Homo sapiens: one gene and its partner. The protein of the gene in region 2 purifies or fractionates together with the protein of the main gene of each other region. This does not show direct contact. Each region holds a gene or a part of one and is shown on either strand. Other genes may lie near its edges.

Region 1 (2,996 bases), on a different chromosome or scaffold from region 2:
GGATGGTCTGTGACTCCAGTGTTTAGTATCCACCCACCACATAACATCAACTTTTCCTCAAGTTTCTTGGGGAGAAGCCATTAGGTCCACTTCATGACATTCATGATACACAAGTGAAAGTCATCGCTCCCAGGTAAGAACCCGTAGACACTGTCTCTCTCTCCACCTCTGGGCTGCAGTACGAGGAGCTGCAGATCACAGCAGGCAGACATGGGGACGACCTGCGCAACACCAAGCAGGAGATTGCTGAGATCAACCGCATGATCCAGAGGCTGAGATCTGAGATCGACCACGTCAAGAAGCAGGTATGGTGAGGGGCAATGGAGGAGAAAAGCATCATTTTTTTTATTAGGTCATGAGGCAGTAGTCACCCATCATTTAGTAAAATTCTTTGGGAATTGATTGATAAGCAGAGAAGGAAAGACATGCAGTTCCTAGGCTCAGTGAGAACACTCTGGCTCAGAGACATGGATCACACCCAAGGATATGAAACAATCACCTGGGCAGAAGCACTCTCAGCTGGTCAAAGCTGTAAAAGTATAGTCTAGAGGCATTGGAAGGGCTTATGTAAGAAGACTGATTGACTTTGGAATTGCAAAGGACCAAGTTGGGCAAGATGTCAGGTCAGAAAGCATCAGTAACATTGCTGCAAATCTGCTCAAGGTTCACGGTGAAAAAGCAAGTGAAACCAGGGCTATGAGGAAGGAAAACGTGGCCCAAGCAGGTGAGAGGATGTGAGGCAGGAGGAAGGCAAGGTCACAACAGCCTCATGTGAAAACTCATCACCTCAGTTGACAACGTTTGCAAATTATTGTGGCATCCATGTAAGGTCATCAAAAATGGTTTTGGTTTTTTTGCTTTGGAGCCAACACTTAATGTCCTTGGTCTTGTGTCCACTGTGGCATCTTCCATTGGTCATCACCCACATCTTTAGGCAGTGGAGTTAACAGAAAGGGCACAGGATTTTATCATGTGACTCCAGACGTAAAAACTTTGAAGACAGTAAAAAGGCTAGACAGGAAGAGTCAGAGCTCATTTACCATCAGTTCTGGGTTCCTGGTGCCTTCTTCACTGGAAAAGAACCAGCCAGGTTTATTCTTCTCTGGAAGACCAGATGACAAGTTCTTTCTCTTCCTTTGCCCTCCTAGTGTGCCAACCTACAGGCCGCCATTGCTGATGCTGAGCAGCGTGGGGAGATGGCCCTCAAGGATGCTAAGAACAAGCTGGAAGGGCTGGAGGATGCCCTGCAGAAGGCCAAGCAGGACCTGGCCCGGCTGCTGAAGGAGTACCAGGAGCTGATGAACGTCAAGCTGGCCCTGGATGTGGAGATCGCCACCTACCGCAAGCTGCTGGAGGGCGAGGAGTGCAGGTGGGTAACTGACGCGACTTCCTCCAACAGCTGAGTCCATCTTCAAGGTTCTGGCACTGAGCACAACTTTAAGGTGCACTGCCCAAGGCCATAATTGCTCTTCTTGGGAGAAAACTAAAAGTTTTCCCATGGACTTTCCCACCCACTGAGGCTTCCCATGCTCGTCCAGGGAAGGTCTCACCCTCCCTGTGTTCCTCTCCACAGGCTGAATGGCGAAGGCGTTGGACAAGTCAACATCTGTAAGTACCTTTGTTTGCCTTCCTCCCCTGCCCTTGCACTCTCCTGACTGGGCTCAGGCCGGCAGGATGAACTCATTGTGGCTTCTTGTGTCCTTGTCCCCTCCCCACCACAGCTGTAGTGCAGTCCACCGTCTCCAGTGGCTATGGCGGTGCCAGCGGTGTCGGCAGTGGCTTAGGCCTGGGTGGAGGAAGCAGCTACTCCTATGGCAGTGGTCTTGGCGTTGGAGGCGGCTTTAGTTCCAGCAGCGGCAGAGCCACTGGGGGTGGCCTCAGCTCTGTTGGAGGCGGCAGTTCCACCATCAAGTACACCACCACCTCCTCCTCCAGCAGGAAGAGCTACAAGCACTGAAGTGCTGCCGCCAGCTCTCAGTCCCACAGCTCTCAGGCCCCTCTCTGGCAGCAGAGCCCTCTCCTCAGGTTGCTTGTCCTCCCCTGGCCTCCAGTCTCCCCTGCCCTCCCGGGTAGAGCTGGGATGCCCTCACTTTTCTTCTCATCAATACCTGTTCCACTGAGCTCCTGTTGCTTACCATCAAGTCAACAGTTATCAGCACTCAGACATGCGAATGTCCTTTTTAGTTCCCGTATTATTACAGGTATCTGAGTCTGCCATAATTCTGAGAAGAAAATGACCTATATCCCCATAAGAACTGAAACTCAGTCTAGGTCCAGCTGCAGATGAGGAGTCCTCTCTTTAATTGCTAACCATCCTGCCCATTATAGCTACACTCAGGAGTTCTCATCTGACAAGTCAGTTGTCCTGATCTTCTCTTGCAGTGTCCCTGAATGGCAAGTGATGTACCTTCTGATGCAGTCTGCATTCCTGCACTGCTTTCTCTGCTCTCTTTGCCTTCTTTTGTTCTGTTGAATAAAGCATATTGAGAATGTGAACATGTTGTGTTAGATTGTATTGCTGACCACTTCCTGGTTTAGAAACATTCGCACCCCACAAATGGTTTCTTATCTTTGGGGAACTGCTGCTCTCCCCACTGACCAGTCATCATGGAGGATGAGTCGGGAGCTCCCCCTCCACAGCCTACTCCATCAGTCAACATTATGTGATTCTGTCGGACACTCCGGTGGACAATCACCAACTACTCAGCCCTCACCACTTGGGAATTTTTCCACAAATGGAGTCTTTTATAAAGCATCAGAACAAAAAGGGAAGCTAATTCCTGGAATCTGGATCAGCATAATCTGATAACTAAGATTCATTTATATTTTTTATTTTTCAGCCCCATCATTTGGTGGCTTGACCCCACACTGATCTCTGAGACTCCCTCTCTCCCCGGCTCCCCACCACCAGGGAAATATTGCACTGACCCTGCAGATCAGAAACACTTGGTAAGAAGCAGGTGCTTGCCCTGACTCTATGATTATTAAGACTTTTG
Region 2 (3,500 bases):
GCCCAAATCTGCATATAGAGAGAGGTATAGGACTGGAGTTTGGGGAAGGTGGCGGGGTGGGCCTGGAGGATAAAGAGGAAGAAGAGGGGCTGGGCCCGGTGGCTCACGCCTATAATCCCAGCACTTTGGTAGGCCAAGGTGGGCAGATCACCTGAGGTCGGGAGTTCGAGACCAGCCTGACCAAGATAGAGAAACCCCATCTCTACTAAAAAATACAAAATTAGCCAGGCATGATGGCGCATGCCTGTAATCCCAGCTACTTTGGAGGCTGAGGCAGGAGAATCGCTTGAACATGGGAGATGGAGGTTGTGGTGAGCCGAGATCTTGCCACTGCACTCCAGCCTGGGCAACAAGAGCGAGACTCCATCTCAAAAAAAAAAAAAAAAAAAAAAGAGGAAGAAGAGGGATACAGATACCTCTAAGTGTGGCCTTAGTCACTCTGCTATCTCACTGTCTGCATGCCCGGAAGCTGACACCAGCCCCTCAACTCCTCTGGCCAGCCCATCCTTGCACATCACGTACTGCCTTAGCTGCAGGCCTTTGCACATGCCAGTCCTACGCCCAGAATGGTCCCCTGCCTCCCCAGAGGCTCCTTTACCCACCAGCCTTCTTTTCTTGACCTAAATTTCCCTTTCTCTGGGAGAGCCTCCTACCCTCTCCTCTAGGCCATTCACTTCTTCCACATGCCCCACGGTGCCCACTCTTTCAGCTGGGGCAATGCTCATCACACTGCATAGTAATTGCTCAGTTAGGCCAGGCACAGTGTCTCACGCCTGTAATCCCAGCACTTGCCGAGGCGAGCTGATCGCTTGAGCCCAGGAGTTCAAGACCAGCCTGGGCAGTATGACAAAACCTCATCTCTACAAAAAAAAAAATACAAAAATTAGTCAGGTGTTGTGGTGTACGCCTGTGGTCCCAGCTAATGGGGAGGCTGAGGTGGGAGGATTGCCTGAGCTCAGAAGGCAGAGGTTGCAGTGAGCTGAGATCACACCACTGCACTCCAGCATGGGTGACAGAGTGACACCCTGTCTCAAAAAAAAAAAAAAAAAAAGCTTGATTAATAATTAATTAACGGTTTTTCTTCCTAAGGGCTGGGATCATACCAGTTTCCTTCACTGCAGTGCCTGAACATAGTAGGCATAGTAGATTCAATAAATCTTTGGTTCATTGGCTGGTTGTTGCCTGCCGTGTGCTGATGAGAAAGGAGCCAGGCTTCCAGGATTTCCTTGGTGTTCTTGGCTCCCTGCTCTGTCTACCTCTCCCCTGCCTCTATGGTACCTTCCCAGGACTGTCTTTGGGCTGCTGCTTGCATTGGTAGGGTCTCTTCTTCAGGGCTGAGGAGGCTGCTCATGGGATAATGAGACCCCTATACGATGCTGCATGGGAGCTGGAGTTGGATGGGGGCCAGTGGATTATCCGCGCAACTCTGCATCCCCCTCCATCTACTCCTCCCTGGTTTTGTTTCTCTGGGGTAAGGAATAGAGCAAAGACTGGGATGGGTGAGCTATGAACAGAGGGTCTCAGCTGAAAAGTGGAAGATGTTTTATTCCATGCCTGGACATCTCTCATTCCCTCTGCTTACTTTTTGCTGCTGTGAGGTCAGGGGAATTTAGGAGCCCTGAGGAATGCTGCTGCTCTCCCTAGCAGGGCGAGGTGACCCTCCACTGGCCCCCATCCAACCCCAGCTCCCATGCTGGAGGTAACCACAGAAGAGGAGAGAGAAGTGGATAGAGCAGAAAGCCAAGAACACCAAGAGAATCCTGGAAGCCTGGCTCCTTCCTCATCACCACACAGCTGGCAAGACACAGTAAGCAACAGATAACCACCAACCAGCCAATGAACTCAAGATTTCTTGAATCTACTGTGCCTAGAATGTTCAGACACTGCAGTAAAGGACACTGGTACGATCCAGCCCGTGGGAAGAAAAGCAATCAATTGAGCAATTACTATGCAGTGTGATGAGCACTGCCCCAGCTGAAAGAGTGGGCACCGTGGGGCATGTGGAGGAAGTGAATGGCCTAGAGGAGGGGGTAGGAGGCTCCCAGAGAAAGGGAAATTTAGGTCAAGAAAAGAAGGCTGGAGGGTAAAGGAGCCTCCAGGGAGGCAGGGATCACTCTGGGCGTAGGACTGGCATGTGCAAAGGCCTGCAGCTAAGGCAGTATCCAATGTGCAGGAATGGGCTGGCCACGGAGGAGTGGAGGTGGCATGAGATGGGCAGAGAGGGGCCAGGGCCAGGTGGCAGAAGGCCTCATGGCCCACATTAGGGAGTCTGAACTCTACCAGAGGGCCATGGGCCAAGTGGAGGGTTTCAGCAGGAGAGCTGCCTCCCCTGTGGAGGCCAGGATGGAGGAAGTGGAGTGGAGGCAGGGTGAGCATCAGCTTCTCCACAGATGGGTGGAGAAGTGGCGGCAGCCTGAGCCACAGAGATGGCAGCGCCAATGGCCAAAAGAGCACAGTCAAGCTGACAGGCTTGGTGTTTGGTTAGAGAGGGAAGAGAGCGGGGCAGCTCAGCGATGCCCTCAGGTCCTGGCTAGGGCAGGTCCTGACTAGTGTGGGGCGCAGCAGAGAAGCTGTGGGAGAATGGACAAGGAGGCCCTTTCTGGGCATGTTGAGTGTGAGGAGCCCGCTAGACACTTGGGTGGGATGGCCAGTGAGGAGGCAGCTGGTCATGTGGTCTCACTTACAGACACATTTGGAGGACAGCAAATCACAGATGGTCATCTGAGCCATGGGCATAGATGAGAGAGCTCAAGGAGAGGGTACAGACTAAGAAGAGGGGCCCAAGAAAGCCAGCCTACAAAGCAAGAAACTGGCAGCCAACCAGATTCCCTAAGTAATCTGCTAACCAAGGAACTAAATAGCTAACAGCTCACTAAAAGCCTGTTTCTTTTCTTTTTCTTTTTCCTTTTTTTTTTTTTTTGAGACAGGGTCTCACTCTGTCGCCCAGGCTGAAGTGCGGTGGTGGCACAGTCACAGCTCACTGAAGCCTAGACTTCCCAGGGTTCAAGCAATCCTCCCGCCTCAGCCTCCCAAGGTGCAGGGATTTCAGGCATGAGCCACCACGCCTGGTGGCTTACTAACCCTTTGACTAACCTATCAAAAACCAACTAACTGATTCTCCTGTTAACCAGCTATTAACTCATTTAATTATCTAATCAACCAGCCAACCATAAACTATCCAACTAACCACGAGCCAACAATTCAACCTGCTAACCAACATTTCTTAATTCAACAAACATTGGTTGGCCAGGCATGGTGACTCATGCCTGTAATCCCAACACTTTAGGAGGCCGAGGCAGGTGGATCACTTGAGGTCAGGAGTTCAAGACCAGCCTGGCCAACATGGCAGAACCCCATTTCCACTAATAATAAAAAAAAAATTAGCTGGGCATGGTGGCAGGCACCTGTAATACCAGCTGGGGGGGGAGGGGCTGAGACATGAGAATCGCTTGAACCCAAGAAGCAGAAGTTGCAGTGAGCCGAGATCATGCCACTGCACT

Evidence for each region. The genes of interacting proteins can lie anywhere in the genome.
Region 1: the proteins of AQP7 (region 2) and KRT6B purify together in Homo sapiens (pull-down; one study listed by IntAct). This does not show direct contact.

Annotation. Positions count from the first base shown.
Region 1 is NC_000012.12:52,446,151-52,449,146, reverse strand, and holds the end of KRT6B (keratin, type II cytoskeletal 6B), read left to right. Parts: intron 1-179; coding exon 180-305; intron 306-1,148; coding exon 1,149-1,369; intron 1,370-1,573; coding exon 1,574-1,608; intron 1,609-1,721; coding exon 1,722-1,957; 3' UTR 1,958-2,496; downstream 2,497-2,996.
Region 2 is NC_000009.12:33,396,069-33,399,568, forward strand, and holds part of AQP7 (aquaporin-7), read right to left. Parts: intron 1-3,500. UniProt on the Homo sapiens protein: Aquaglyceroporins form homotetrameric transmembrane channels, with each monomer independently mediating glycerol and water transport across the plasma membrane along their osmotic gradient. Could also be permeable to urea.